2 linked regions of the Homo sapiens genome follow. The protein of the gene in region 1 interacts with the protein of each later gene in a pairwise test. Each region holds a gene or a part of one and is shown on either strand. Other genes may lie near its edges.

Region 1 (8,538 bases):
TTTCCCATTGATAAATTCCCATTGATGTTCTATAGTTTTTACAAACCACATTGGTGTGAGTGGAAGAGACATGCATGTATGGATTAGATATTCTGAATTCCCATGTGAGACTAGGTCCACTTTTTCTGAGGGTTGGGAAGAGATCCCAGGCTCCATGAGGGTCCCCAGGGTGACTTCCCAGCTGGTCCTATGATAGAACTACCTCTGAGAAGGGCAGGGGCCCCTTCCTTTGTGCCTGAGAGGCTGTGAGTGTGAGTTATTATATGGTGAGTCAAGTCACCAAGCAGTGGCTGCCCTGGGATTCCTGGGCAGAGATATAGGAATCGGGTCCGCATGGTGCAGCCAGGCAATGCGTGGGGATTCAGGGAATGGCCACACACACTCCATCCTAGTATTGTTGCTGTAGTGCAACTTGGGCTGTGAGAGGTGGTGTCTGCAGAGGGGCGTTGTGGGCCCCATGCCCCTTTGGCTAAAGTCCAGCATTTGGGTAGATTGATCACAAGCAACAGGTCTAACCCAAAGTTGACTTGGCAGGTCCAGGGCCAGCCCACATTTCTCAACAAGGCTCACAGGGGCTTTCCATATTGCGGTGTGAGGAACAGAGCGCCCACCTCGCCTTCCCCTCCACCTGCTCCCTGATCGCCATCCTGTCCTTCTGAGCCTCCTAGTTTTGACCTTGCTGATTTCTTTTCTGATTTTGGTCTCTCCTCGCCCTTTGTTCTATGGACTTGGTGTTTGGTACATTTTCTTACCATTTCTGTGTTTCTTGTTTTATCAACATATTGCTTTATGCCATCTCAGGGAAGTCCCAGGGACTCTCCCACCCAGTAGGTCTTTGGGGCCGTGGCTCTACCCTGCTTACCTTACTCACTCTCTCGCCAGTGTCTCCCGCATCCCGTTCCCCAGAGTTCAAATCCAGGCCTCGCTGCATAACAGGTAGGCTGTTTGAGGTTACCTTTCCTATTGGAGTCTGTTTCTTTTATAAATGGGGTGGGTAATCCCTTTCTCACAGGGCAGTTGTGAGATGTACTGAGTGTGTGTGTGTGTGTGTGTGTGTAACCATCACAACCTAGTACCAAATGGAAACTAGGTAATCCTAGAAATAGAGCCACCCTCCCCATGACCCTTCTCCCCGACCTTGGTCTCTGCTGTCAGGCAGTGATGTCCTGTCTCTTTCTCCCCCTGTTCCAGCTCCACCCTCCTTCACAGTCAGTGAGGGGGACTCAGACCGAACTTGCTCCTCCCCTAGCAGCAGAGGATCTCTGATTGGCTGCCATCACCATGGCAACCTACTGCCTTCTCTCCCCATCCCTCACTTTCCAGAGCCAGCAGATTTGTGGAGTTCCAGACTTCTCAGGGCTGGGAGGGAAGATACTAGGGGAGGACAGAGAGGCCCCCTTCACAGCTAGGATAGCCATGCATTTGGGGTTTGCTTGGACTCCAAATTCCAGCCTGGTATGCAGTGTGGCCTCTCCTGTCTCCACATGTTGAGGGAATGACTTTCTGATATCCTTAGTTGTCCTGATTCCCACTGAAAAGGCTCAGCTTGATGGCTGAGGGTCCTGGGTTGGTGGCATGTGGCATGAATGATAAGTGTGTTGTTCAGTGATACTCACTGAATGTCAAACAGCACAGTGTTCGTCCTGCCGTCCTTGCAGCCCTGCTGAAAGGATTACACCATAGATTCAGCTCTGGTGTGCTTTGAAAACCCCAAAGGCTGTCAGGGCTCATTCCTCATCCTGGCCACCGCTTGGCCAGGGGCTGGCAGCCTAACTGGAGCCCTCCCCTCTGGATGTGAAGTGGGGGCTTGGAGATGTGTGTCTACATGGGGCCTCCTGGAGAACCACACGGGGTGCTGTGGTGAGATGCCAGCTTGCAGGTCCTGGCAGTGGGGTGCAGGTCAGGGGTTCATGCCAGGGCTTGAGAATCTACTTAATCCCCAGCACAGTCTGCAGGGTGAACATGTGACATCCATGCATTAACTATGATTTTCAAATGCTCATTGATGCTACTGTAGTTTAAAAATAATAACTTCAAAGCATGGGCTGAATTCAAGGCAACTTTTGTCATTATTCGTGTTCTCAGTCAATAGGGGTTTGGTGGTAGAGGGTGAACAAACCCTCCTAAAATAGGGTGAGGTGCCAGGCGTGGTGGTTCATGCCTATAATCCCAGCACTTTGGGAGGCCAAGGCAGGTGGGAGCCCAGGAGTTTGAGACCAGCCTGGGCAACATGGTGAAAACCTGATTCTATAAAAAATTAGCTGGGTGTGGTGGCACATGCCTGTAGTCCCAGCTACTGGGGAGGCTGAGGTGGGAGTATCACTTGAGTCTGGGAGGCAGAGGTTGCAGTAAGCCATGATCACATCACTGCACTCCAGCCTCAATGACAAAGCAAGACTTTGTAAAAAAAAAAAAAAAAAAAAAAGGAGGGAGGAGCAAGGTGATGGAATTATCACACATGCTACAACATGGATGCTCCTTGAAGACATGCCAAGAGAATGAAGCCAGATACAAAAGGACAATACTATTTGATTTCACTGATACGAGGTGCCTAGAATAGGCAAATTCATAGAGACAGAAAGTAGTTTGGGGTTAGCTGGAAAGGAGTGTTATTGCTTACTGGTTACATATGAATATTGGGGAACATGCCAAAGTTCTGGAGATGGAAAGCTGTGATGGCTACACAGCAATGCGTGTGCACTTGAGGCCAGTGAGCTATACACTTCAAAATAGTGAAAATGGTGAGCGTTATGTTGGACATGTTCAGCCTCAATAAAATTACCCCTCCCCGGCTGGGCGTGGTGGCTCATGCCTATAATCCCAGCACTTTGGGAGGCTGAGGCAGGCAGATCACGAGGTCAGGAGTTCAAGTCCAGACTGACCAATATGGTGAAACCCCATCTCTACTAAAAATACAAAAATTAGCCAGGTGTGGTGGTGCGTGCCTGTAGTTCCAGTGACTCAGGAGGCTGAGGCGGGAGAATCTCTTGAATTCGGGAGGTGGAGGTTGCAGTGAGCCGAGATCACGCCATTGCACTCCACCCTGGGTGACAGAGCGAGACTCTGTCTCAAAAAAAAAAGAAAAAAAATTACCCCTCCCCACCAAGAAGAACACATGAGGCAAGGCTGGACGGTGGAATGTGGGGATGATGGACACATCTTGGGGGGATTTAATCTGGAGAGGTGTTCTGGAGGAGGGGGTCTCGCTCCACAGCTGCCTGGCTCCTCTCCTGCCTCACCCTGCCCTCTCCAGCTCACTGGCTGAGGGCAGCAGCCTGTGAAGGTTATGTTAGTGGCTCCCTCATTCCCTGAGGGAACTACAGAAGCCACCATCGCTGACCCGTCACCCCCCCTCAAGATTCCACCATATGGAAATGTAAACTAGTACAGTCACTATGGAAAACAGTGTGAAAAATTTTTAAAGAACTAAAAGTAAATCTACCATTTGATCCACCAATCCTACTCCTGGGTATCTACCCAGAGAAAAAGAAGTTATTGTACAAAAAAGATACTTGCACATGCATGCTTATAGCAGCATGATTCGCAATTGCAAAAATATAGAACCAGCCCAAATGCCCACCAATTAACAAGTGGATAAAGAAAATGTAATACACACACACACACACACACACACACACACACACACACACACCGTGGAATACTACTCAGCCATAAAAAGCAATGAAATAATGGCATTTGCAGCAACCTGGGTGGAATTGGAGACCATTATTCTAAGTGAAGTAACTCAGGAATGGAAAACCAAACATCATATGTTCTCACTCATAAGTGGGAGCTAAGCTAGGAGGGCGCGAAGGCATAAGAATGATACAAGGGACTTAGGAGACTTGGGGGAAAGAGTGGGAGGAGAGTGAGGGATAAAAGACTACTCACTGGGGACAGCGTACACTGCTCGGGTGATGGTGCACCAAAATCTCAGAAATCACCACTAAAGAACTTATTCATGTAACCAAACACCACCTGTTTCCCAAAAACTTACTGAAAATTTTAAAAAATCCACCATATTTGGGAATCACCAGTGTAATGACCAGTCCATCTTCCTACCTGTGGCTCCCTCTGGAAGGCCCAGGAGGGCTGGATGGGAGGGGCAGTGAGGACCCACTAGTGTCAGCAGAGATGTGGCTGATACCTTTGCAAAGGTGGCCAGAGGGAAGCCTTATTCTCCAGAGACTCCAGTGCAGGGCCCTCATCAGCTCCCAATCCTGGGGTTTTTGCAGTCCCCGCAACCCCCCGCCTTCTGAGTCATCGTTCAAACCCACCAGCCCTTCTGACAGAGCTGGAAACAGGCACCAAGCCCTCCAGGAAGCTATTTTTAGGGTTCATCTGTTCTTTTTTATTTCTTCTCTGGATTCCATATTCTCTCACCCCCAAATTTAAAGGACCTAAAGATCCTGGAAATCATTCATTATACCCCCAGCTCGCAAGCTGTGGCTTCTCCCCAACCTTCTCTGTACCACTCCCTCTTTCTTTCTTCCTCTCCGCCCTCACCCCTCTGGTTCTCCAGCTCCACAGGCAGCAGAGAAAGCAGGCTCTTTGTCTGACATCATCTTTCACTCCCTGGCCTGCTAAGAGTTACTCACTCAGGCAATCCCTGCTCCACCAGAGGAGACTGTCCAATTGCCAAGCAACCCACTGCTGGCCAATCACAGAGCTTGGAGGTGATGTCATGGCAAGAGCGAGCAGTGGTGCTGATGTTGAGAGAAGCCCAGGGTACCACTAATTGAGGGAGTGAGGAAGAGAGCAGCTCGCTTCTAACTGGACTGCACGTAAGTAGAAATAAAATGCAACTAATTTGAGGCTTTTCAGGCAAAAGAAAAAACAAGACAGCAGCTACAGTGGGGAGAAGCGAGGGGCCTAGCACCTATTGTGTCACCTTTGGTTCTACTCAATCATTTAAACTTTGTCAGATCTTGGGGGAAAGGGGGTGAGGCAGAAAGAATGGCGCTCGGCCAAGGGGTGAGGGTGGGCTCCGGGTGCCACTTTTATTCCAGAGCTCAGGAGAGGCAGGATGGGTGGGAATTGTCAGATGCTATGGTGAGCTATTTCTGCATAAAAATGTTTTGTTGCTTAAGGAGAAAGGTTTTGTGCTGAGTCTGGCTGCCCCTGCAGCTGGCTGTGACCTGAAGATCCCTTTCAAGTGGGAAGCTCTCCTGTGTTTTTACCTTTTCTTCCTCAGACACAGCTTTTCTTGTCTCCCATTCCCATTTTGATCACACATCTTTTCCTTCGGCTCTATGCACGGGTTACTTTTTTCTCTTGGTTCTAAGGATGCAATGAGATCATCACCTCCTCTTGGCCCCGCCCCACCCTGAGGTCAGCCTAATCCTACCTGGCCAGAGGTGGCTGGCTCCAAAGCTGAAAACTGCAGACACCCAGAACTGCCACGCCCTGGTCCTTGACTGGGGCCCTGGCCAGTCCCCCTCCTTATTCAGCCCACCACACTTGCCAGGAGTTTAGGCATCATTCATTTCTCATCCTGGGACCCAGGGTTTTGATGTCCAGCAGTCAGCTGTCCCCACGTGGCGGTGCTGTCTTTGTTTTATTTCTCCCAGGAAGACACAATCAGGTGTGGTGGAGTCTTGTTGTCCTGAACATGAGCAGGTCTCCAGAATGCTGTGTGTGTGTGTGTGTGTGTGTGTGTGTGTGTGTGTGTGTGTTTGTATGGGGGTCGGAGGGAGAGGTCAGGAATGTTCAGGCACCCTTATCTGAATGCCCTGGGAAGGGATACCCCCTGTCTTAAGACCAAGAGAATACAAGGTGGGATGGCCAGAGGTGGCCTGCTGAGGCTCGAGGGATGGGTGGGAGGTTGAGAGGGAATATGAGGGAATCTGTCTCCACCTGAGGCTGAGCCCCCGCCTCCCAGGGGGAGGAAACCTCTCCCACAGGCGGGTGCTAGGGGAATGAGATCATCCTTCAGATGAGGAAATAATCATAGTGCTGGAGCAGTGAGAAGGCAGAGGGGAAAAGGTCTGATCTGCAGCTCCACAGAAGGAAGCCAGAGTCTCCCAGCAATGCTGCCCTAGTCTCTGGCTCACCCCAACCCTCCGCTTTGCTGCTAGGAGCTGTACTTTCACCCCTCTTGGAAACCACTGAGCACCTGTCAGCTGGTCCCAGCCCTCCTGGCATTCTCAGCTCCACCCAGGCCACTCCTGGAACAGCTCTGGAGTGAGCAGGATCTGCAAGTGCTAGATGGGACTACCATAGAGCATGCTGCCCTGTAGGGAGTGAGTTCCCTGTCACTGAAGGCATTCAAGCAGAAGTTGGATGGCCACCCAGCAGGGAGGCTTTAGAGGAGATTTTTGCATTATGTTAGGGATTGGTCTAGGTTAGTGTTTTAACTGAAGGCTGAGACCCATTAGTACATTGTGAAATCAACTTATGGATTGTAAATGGTATTTTGTTTTAATAAAATGGAATAAGAGTAGAAAATAATTAGAGCACATCTCATGTAATGGGATAATTAATGCTTCCTATGCTGTCTTTAGTTACATATCAGTTATGTGTATATTTGTGTGTACAAATGTACATATATGTCTGTATCTGTAATCATATATGTGTGTATATGTCCATATCATGACAAATACATACTGGATCATAATATAAAATGTAGCACCTTTTGTGAGCTTCAGTCAAAAAAGTTTGAGAAACATTAGGCTAAGTGACTTCTAATTACCTCTCCTAACCCTAAGACTACAAGCCTATGAAAAACTCCCAATAGATAGTCAACCTTTTTTTTTTAATTTTTAACTGCGGTAAATACACATAACATAAAATTTGCCATTCTATTTTTAAGTGTACAAATCAGTAGTATTAAGATTTACATTGCTGTGCATGCAATCTTCAGAACTCTTTTCATTTGGCAAAACTGAAACTCCATACCCATTAGACACTAACTTCCCATTCTCCTGTGCCCCAGCCCCTGGAAAATCCCATCCTACATTCTTTCTCTATAAATTTAACTCCTCTAGGTACCTCAGATAAGTGGAATCATACAGTACTTGTCTTTTTATGATTGGCTTATTTCGCTGAGTGTAATGTCCTCAAGGCTCATCCATGTTGTACACTGTGTGTCCCTATTCCCAAGTAAAAAATAAGTGCCTTTAAGTTGTAATTAAATCTAAATATTTTTTTTTATGGGAAGCTGTCCTTCTTTAGTGAGTTACTTCATTCTAAAGGACCTATCAAAGACGGAGAAGTTTGGTCTCATATTGTCCATAGTGGCCAGGTTGTCGACTAGAGGTGGAGGGACGGTGAAAGTGTCCTGCATTTTTGCTTGGATGGCTGCTTAATAGCTAGATTTCACTTTGGTTCAATAAAAGAAACCCAAATTCCAAGTGGCTATCTTCTTTTACTGGACTAGGCCATTTTTAACCACATTTTTCCTGTAGGGGGATGTGGGCTGATTGATAACTTTTAAAATAGAGCAACAAAGATTGACAAACTGAGGTTCAGAGAATAGGGTATTTGAGCAGGAAAAAGGAACATGGGGCAAATAAATTAGGAAGGTAAGAGAGAGATAAAGAAAGGAGGAGAATTGTGTCTATATTAAACCAACTGTATAGACGGATTGGAAAAATTCAGATATTTTGTGTTCTTGCTTTTAAATAATAGGATATTTAAGTATCAAGATCATAATCAAAGAAAGGCTTAATTTTTCAAGAATGCTTCAGACTGTCTCCCCTGCCCCCTCTGATATCTTTATATTATTTCATACTTACCTGGAGATTCTCATTTGGAAACATAGAGTTCCCGGAGATTTTGAAGACACAGATGGGGAGAAATGAAACTGCTTTTGTGGGAGGAGAGATAGAAATTTTGGGGAATTATACAACATGTAAAGTGTAATTTTCGTAACGCCACTCAGGGAACAAATCCATTTTTTTTAAGCTTGAGAAATAAACATACATCATGTATAATTCGATTTGCTTATTAAATTAGCATTTGCTATATTTAGAGATGTGACAGCCTGGGAAAGGTTGCTTTTTCTGTTTTTCTTTAGAGAGGGATGGATACCAAAAATTCTTCCCTGCCATTTAAAAATTGTTTTTTTTTTCAGAGTTTTACATCTCTAGTCCCTCTAGGAAGACAAATGAATACATGCACACCTGCGCCCTTCCCACCTACATATGCATGCACACACATGAACCCCCACATCTGAACACTCCCACTCCATCCCCTACACACACGAGTGCTCCCACTCCATCCCCTACACACACATGTGAATGCTCCCACTCCATCCCCTACACACACATATATGAGTGCTCCCACTCCATCCCCTACACACACATGAACCCCCACATCTGAACACTCCCACCCCACCCCACCCCCTACACACAGATGTGAGTGCTCCCACTCCATCCCCTACACACACATATATGAGTGCTCCCACTCCATCCCCTACACACACATATATGAGTGCTCCCACTCCATCCCCTACACACACATGAACCCCCACATCTGAACACTCCCACCCCACCCCCTACACACATGTGAGTGCTCCCACTCCATCCCCTACACACA
Region 2 (7,785 bases), on another chromosome or scaffold:
TAAGGATGTCGTTGTCTCTCCTCACTCTGAGTGGCCTCCTCTGCCCCTTAAACGTTACGGATCCAGTTCCTGAAATAGGGCTGCTGTGTGGAGGTTGAACAGAGCCACGATCCTCAGGGTGGAACAAGGCCTCTGTGACACCAGCTTTGCCGCTTTGCCAGGGCTTACAAGGTGGAATGTAAATTCCACCAGGGGCCTCTCCACTCCTGCACACCCAGCTTTCTTACCCATTTTCAGCACATGTGGTGTGTGACAGTTTGGGTGGAATGTCTTGTCTTTTCCCATCAGCCTGGATAAGAATGCGGACCCGGGTCCTCCAGGGCTGTAGTCCTCTGGGCTGTTATGCAACCAGCTTCCAAACCAGGAGAGCCCCAGGGTTCCGGCTGCCTGAGGCTGCCGTGAGACACTATCCTGATGTGTAAGTGAGAGGGCCCTGGGCCAGTTACCCGACCTCTGTCTCAGTTTCTTTGTTTATAAAACAGGGTAGTGTGAGAACTAGAGCAGGGGTCCCCAACCCCTGGGCAGTGGACTGGTACCATGGGACCTGTTAGGAGCCAGGCTGCACAGCAGGAGGTGGGTGGCAAGCAACGGCATTACCGCCTGAGCTCTGCCTCCTGTCAGATTGGCAGTGGGATTAGGTTCTCATAGGAATGCGAATCCTATTGTAAACTGTGCATGCTACGGATCTAGGTTGTGTGCTCCTTATGAGAATCTAATGCCTGATGATCTGAGATAGAACAGTCTCATCCTGAAACCATCCCCTCCCACCCTCACCCCAACCCACCCGCCAACCCCCAGTCCATGGAAAAACTGTCTTCCACGAAACTGGTCCCTGGTGCCAAAAAGGTTAGGGAAATAAAGGATTAAATGGTAGTCAGATTTCACGTGTATTTTTGCTAAAACTGAAAGCTGTCAGGATCCACATTGGTGTTACCAGTTTGTACTGAAGCCTGATACAATACCCAACAGTATTGCTCTGGTTTTTTCAAGCACACACTCCAAGCAAGTGGTCAGTCTGGCTTAATTCATTATGGCTTTTTTTCAGGGTAAGAGATTCACACGCAAGAGAATAAGGCTACAAATGCTCCAAACATGGGTCCAGAACTCTGGCTCTTTTGTGAGGCCTAGAGTCACAGAAAATGCCATCTGTTAAGAAGCTGCTTTTGCATAAAAAAATATAAAAAGTTACAAAATTCCATCAAAGACAGATACACAGTATAAATCGTTAGGTGAACACAGAAGGCTGGTCTCATCTCCTGCAGTGGCCCATAGACCTGCCCTGAGGTCTGGAAGTTCACTGTCCTGAGGGTCCAGGAACTCCTGCCTGCTGGCTGGGCTCTAGGAAGAAGGAGGGTTTGGCTGGGCCCGCCCAGCTCCCCATGACACTGTCACTGTGATGCCACTGTTGTACCCTCTGTCTTCTGGACCAGTCAGTCTATGAGCTCTTCTTTGAAACAGTCTTAGACCCAGAATGGTCATCTCACCCCCAGAAGACATGGTTTCCAAGGGTGGGAGGTGTTAGTTATGGGTGCCGAGCCCCACTTCCTGGGCGACAAGGCAAAGGTCAATTTCTCCCTGCTTCAAGAATGAAGAGGGAACTGGTGCTCCTTGAACCAAAGATTCTTGGAAGGGTCATTGTCACCAAAGTGGCTGGTGTGGGCAGGAGCACCAAGTGCAGACAAACCCACCGGGGCCTGGCGGGGCAGCCCTGTCATGGTTTCTGTCTTTGTTCCTGTTAGTGAAACAGAAGACCCCCGACCCCCGCCACCTAGCAGCATGGAACACCTGCTGCCCAGATACAGACAAGGCTCTGCTTTGTCTCCTTGTGCTGGTTTTTGGCAGAGACGTTAAAGGGCTGAAGGCCTGTGGGACAGAAATGGGGAGAAGGAGTGGGATACCCAAGATGCCCTCATACGCAGCGTGGTCAACAGTGCTGAGCTGAGGGGCAAGCCTGGTAGGCTGGGCTCAGGCAGAACCTGAGGCTGTAGGGGGCCTGCTGTGTCCGCAGCCCCCTCTGCAACTCAGAAGTCCAGGCCTCCGCTCCAACGCCAGCGACCCCTGTGAGGCGCAGGGGTGGAGGCCTGTGTGGCTCAGGTTGCCAAGGCACCCGCCAGGCCTTCAGTCAGAGTCCGAGTCGGAATTCTCTTCTGAAAGGAAAGCAGAGAGGATGCTTGGCAGGAGGCTCAGGGCAGCGGTGCCTGGGAACGGTCTCTGGGGAAGCACAGCTGGGTTGCTGGCAGGAGCCTGGGTGCAGGCCTCCTGCAGCTGACTCTACCGTTCCCAGTGATCGCTGGCATCAGGGCAGGCCGCGGGCCTGAGGCCCTCCACAGGCAGCAGCCACTTTCTCTCTCTCTTTTTTTTTTGTTGTTGTTTTTTGTCTTTGAGACAGAGTCTTGCTCATCACCCAGGCTGGAGTGCAATGGCGGGATCTCGACTCACTGCAACTTCCTCCCTCCCGAGTAGCTGGGATTATAAGCGTGTGCCACCACACCTGGCTAATTTTTGTACTTTTAGTAGAGATGGGCTTTCACCAGGCTGGTCTTGAACTCCTGACCTCAGGTGATCTACCCACCTCAGCCTCCCAAAGTGCTGGGGTAACAGGCGTGAGCCACCGTGCCCGGCCGCAGAAGCCACTTGCACCTCCAGGGTGTGGGTGCGGGTGCAGGTGGGGGTGTTTCCACCCCAAGACTGAAGCCCAGGTGCCCCTTCCTCAGGCCCAGCCCCTCCGGAGTCTCCCTGGGCTTTTCTCAGCTGGGTGGGTCAGGGCTGTACCTCTGCATTCCAGCTCTACCCCCACCCCCAGGTTCAGCAGGACAAGGTGAGGACAGCTATTTTCTTGTCCCCCAAACTAAAATATACTGGAAAATCAGCAAGCCTCTTTTTAGCCATTTTATATCTTCAATCCCCCTCCCCCAATCCTTGTTTAATATTGTAATCAGAAACAATTTTATAATGGTAAGGGCCTGCCTATGAGGTGTACCTCGAGGGTTCCTGAAATCCCAGTTCTGTCTCGGAGCTCTGTAGAGCCTTCTGGAACCTCCACCCCAGAAGGAAAAGCACCAGAGTCACTAACCCCCAACCCCACCCCAGTGCTGGTTGCTACTTCCTGATGCTCATCCCCTCCCTGGCCAGCCTCTGTCTCTCAGAACCCCAGTCAGTCCCCATGAGCTGTCGCTGGCTCATGGCTGGGCTCAGGGCTGGGGTGTGGGCAGCCTAGTCCCTAAACCCCAGCTCTGTCCCTCACTCCGGTTCCTGGGCTGCACTCGTCAGATTTTGTGGGTTTTGCTATATTCAATTTTTTCCCCCCGAGATGGAGTCTCACTCTGTCGCCCAGGCTGGAGTGCGATGTCTTGATCTCAGGTCACTGCAACCTCTGCCTCCCATAGGTGATTCTCCTGCCTCAGCCTCCCAAGTAGCTGGGATTACAGGCGGGCACCACCATGCCTGGCTGATTTTTGTATTTTTAGTAGAGATGGGGTTTCACCGTGTTGGCCAGGCTGGTCTCAAACTCCTGACCTCAAGTGATCCACCCGTCTCGGCCTCCCAAAGTGTTGAGATTACAGGCGTGAGCCACTGTGCCTGGCTGCTATATTCAATTCTAACATATAAGTCAAGAATAATTTTACAGCAAAATAATTGTTACATATGTGAAACTCTCCAAATAGTAAAACAAAAAAAACAAAATAAAACCACCCAAGTTTCCACTGACGTTTACTAATTGGTCCCTGGGCTGGTTGTCTGGGATCACTTGCTGCGGGCAACTGGGAGCAGGTTGCAGAGCCTGAGGAAACCGCCTGGGAGCTCTAACCTAATATTTGCCAAGGGACGGGATGGGATGAGTGGCATTCATTTTCAGCAGAAGGACGGTTTCTGGGATTCACAAATCCCCATGGCCCCAGCACCTGGCTGTTAGGAAACCAGTGGCTCTTAAGCCTAACCTACTGGTCCTGCCTAGGGAAGATCCCAACCACAGGGTGGGGCCTGCAGGCCCTTCCAGAGCTGCCCTTGTCTACCTGTCCAGCCACAGGCACTGCCAGCACAGGGGCACATCCGCCTGGTCCAGAGAAGCATCTCCCCAGGCAGAAGCGCCTGCTGTCTCTGCTCTCAGCCTTCTTCCCTACACCGGCCTGGTCTCTTCTGCCTGCACACTCCTCTACTGCCATCTGTCAGTACCCAGCTCTAGTGTCCCCTCCAGAGCCTCGGGCCAGCTGACACCCAGCGTGGGCCTGCTTTCAGCTACTGTATCCCTCCCTCTATCGGCTCCTGTTTTACTGTCGTCATTGCTGCCCCATCTGGCCCCTCCCCTGGTACGGGACACATCATCTGTCCCTTGCCACGGTTTCTGGGTCTGACTCCTTTCTGGGCTCTGAGCTTCCCAGGACAGGCCTGGATGGGTAAGACAGCAGAGGGGCTGGGTTTGGGGGATGGCCACTCTGGATCCCAGGTGGACAGGTGCCCGAGAGTGACTGGCTGCCCAGGGGGGTCGTCCAGGGAGACTTGCCGGCCTGGCCTGAGGCTCAGCCATGCCCACTGCTTGCCCCTCCTAGAAAGGCTGGGGTGAGGGTGCACGAGGCGAATGGGACTGGCTTTGGATCAGTGCTGCATGAGGGTAGGTGAGAATGGGCTGTGAAAACACTTCCTGCCATGGGGAGAGAGGAAATGATCCCACCCCAGCCTCAAACTAGCTGGCATCCCCGAGGGAGGGCAGGCCCCTGTTGCAGCACTGCTGGGGTGATCAGGGCAGCCGCTTACCTTCTGTCTTGTGGGCTGTGGTCTCATCTGCAGAGTCCCCTTGTTTGAGGAATTTGGCCACGTCGTTAAAGATCAGGTAGAAATCAGTTGCAAACACGATGGTAGCAAAGAAGCCAAACACCTGTGGACAGGGTGGATGGGATGCATCACAGGGCTGACTCCCTGCTCCGGGAGGCTGCTGCCCCAGCCTCACGGCCCATTTCAGATCTGCTTGGACAAACAGCCCGAGTGTCAGGCACAGACCCCTGTGAGTAACGGAAGTGGGAAAATGAGCTGTGAACTTGGTTTGACAAACAGCCTTTCAAAACCCCGGGTAGAGTCAGTCTTTAATGAGAGGACTTTGGAATCATCATCGGGACCCACATGAGACCCCAGGGGGGCCCCAGCAGGGAAAGGCTCTGCCCCAGGTCCCACCCTAAATGAGGGGCTAGAGGGGCATCTGCAGTTTCCAGAGGGGTGGGGCGGCTGCTCACCCCAGCGGCTTTGGAAGCCCCATCCGAGTACTTGGCGATGGCCGTGATGGAGATAGCAAAGTAGATGAGGGCCGCGGTGACACAGCGCAGGAAGTCCTGGGGAGAGAGGGGCATGCTGCCCTGAGCCCCTGGAGCTGAGCACAGCATGGGGAGGAGGCCTGGCAGCCTGGTCGTGTTCCCAGCCCCAGGCCTAGCACCTGAGGGCTCCTATCCCATCCTGGCCCCACCCACATGCCTAGGCCCTTGTCCCACCCCCGAGGTGCCTCTGCTGCCTTGCCAGCAGCTGACACTGCCCTATCCCGGGTCCAGCGGGGCTGCTGTCCTAAGCTCTGGGCAAAAAACTGTGTGGATCAGGGTGCAGCCTGCCCTGCGATGCGGTGGAAGCAGAAGTTGGAAACACCCCCACCTGCTCCCTTCCCGCTCTCCATTGGGGAGATCTGGCTCTGGGCCTCGGCTTTGTCACACTCTTGTGGCCGATCCATTCATGGACCACAGTTTCTGCTTATCCGTCCCTAAGATGGGGACACAGAGGGTGCAGCCCTCCTGAGGCAGCAGATGCTGGATATGAAGTCAAGAGACAAGGGTTCAAGTTGAGCCTTTGCTGCCCTTTCTCTAGGACACATTTCATTCAGCGAGGTCCACTGGGGTCTGGGCCCTCACAGGTGATAAAACGAGGTCAGGGTTGCCGATGGCTGAAGTCTGGGTAAGCCCTGCAAGTCCTCAGTTAACCTGTCCTGCCCACGTGGAAATGGCTTGAATTCCTGTGGCGGCAGCTCATTCCTGTAGGCCCGGTGGGGAGCACCGGCGCCACCTGGTGGCCAGAGACCCCTCTCCGGGTTCCCTGCCTCACAGACCTGCTCTAGAGGCACCACAGCCCACTTGAGGTCACAGGGCTGCTGAGTAGTGGAGCTGGGATGATCTGAAGCTGGGTCTCTCCATCCAGTTCTAACCAACTGCAAACTCCAGCACACTAGAGAAAGGATAAGGGCCCAAGTGCACGACTCTGGACTCCTCATCTGGCCACTTTGTGCAGGGCACCCCTCCCTCCTGGGGCCCCTGTCCTCACCATCATGGGCCAGCACAAGCCCTGCCACTTGTCATTCAGCTGCATGGCATCAGCAAAGAGGAAGTACAAGGCCAGCAGGAACTCCAGCAGAGGCGCTGTGAGGAAGGCAGATGCTGAGGACGCCACATAGCAGATAAAAGTGATGAATGAGAGACCCTGCGGGGAAGGAGTTTGAGGTGAAGTCAGAGCCTTTTCATGTTCCTTGTCCAGTGCTCCTCTGAGCCAGGCCCTGTGGTCAGGATAGAGGAGGTTCCAGCAGGGGAAGCCAACTGCTCACAGTCCCGCAGCTGGGAAGTGGCAGAGCCAGATTAGAATCCCAGGCCAAGCACAGTGGCTCACACCTGTAATCCTAGCACTTTGAGAGGCCCAGGCAGGTGGATTGCTTGAGCCCAGAAATTTGACCCCAGCTTGGGCAACATGGCAAAACCTCATCTCGGCAAAATATACAAAAATTAGCCGGGCATGGTGGTGTGTGCCTGAAATCCCAGCTACTTGGGAGGCTGAGGTGGGAGGATCACCTGAGCCCGGGGAGGTCGAGGCTGCAGTGAGCTGTGATCAGGCCACTGCACTCCATCCTGGGTGAGAGAGAGAGAGACCCTGTCCGCACCCGCCCCTACAAAAAAAAAAAACCCAGCATGGCCCAGGCTCACACCTATGCTGCCTCCCAGTCCTGGGCATGGCCCTGAGTCCTCACCTTACCCCACCCCAGCTCCCTGACAGGACCTAGTCAGAAAGCCCCAGCCTTCCAAGCACATGCACTCCACTCAGTGCCCTGCGGAGGGAAATCAAAGCGAGGCAGGAACCAGTTTCCAAAAAGTAACACCCAACACCAAAGACGTGTGCTCGTCACTGAATGTAGATTTCACCTTGAAAAGAAAAAACCTTGAACCTTAATGATATGCGTCCTGAAGTGTTCAGAGTTGAAATGTCCTGATGTCTGCAATTTATTTTGTGTTAAAAGATAAAATGCCTTGATGGACAGATAGATAAAGCAAAAAAATCTTTTGGAGTTTTAATGTATTTGCAAATTTTCATAATGATAAGAAAGGAACATCTAACAGAGGGTGCGTTGGCACTGACACCTCAGGCCCTGCTGCCTTATTCATACAGGGCCAGCTGTGAAAGGTGGGGCCAGCTGTACTTGAACTACAAGAATCAAAATGTTCACTGTGGTCTTGCCCACAACTCTGTAGGTGGGAAGAGCTGATGCAGGAGGATGTTGAGCCCTGGGCAGTCCTGCAGCCCAGGTACGCTGCAGAGCAGGCCAAGGTGACCTGTTGGCCAGCCTGGGGCTCCACAGTGCCTGGTACCCTGAGGCTCACGGGCATCTCCTCTGACCCTCACATCCACCCATGAGCACAGCCCCACTTGACAGATGAGAAGACTCTGTCACATGGCTAATCAGAGGCTACTAGAATTTGAACCCAGGGCTGGCTGACCCCCCAGATAGAGTTATCTTACCTCCGCCCCAGAGATGGAGTCTTGCTCCGTCTC

Evidence for each region.
Region 2: the proteins of STMN4 (region 1) and CMTM3 interact in binary tests that used the Homo sapiens proteins (3 or more experiments, as listed by UniProt).

Annotation. Positions count from the first base shown.
Region 1 is NC_000008.11:27,254,597-27,263,134, reverse strand, and holds the start of STMN4 (stathmin-4), read left to right. Parts: upstream 1-4,730; 5' UTR 4,731-4,784; intron 4,785-8,538. UniProt on the Homo sapiens protein: Exhibits microtubule-destabilizing activity.
Region 2 is NC_000016.10:66,606,971-66,614,755, reverse strand, and holds the end of CMTM3 (CKLF-like MARVEL transmembrane domain-containing protein 3), read right to left. Parts: intron 6,448-7,785; coding exon 6,292-6,447; intron 5,322-6,291; coding exon 5,226-5,321; intron 4,998-5,225; coding exon of another isoform or gene 4,899-4,997; exon of another isoform or gene 4,874-4,898; coding exon 4,753-4,873; intron 2,148-4,752; coding exon 2,119-2,147; 3' UTR 869-2,118; downstream 1-868.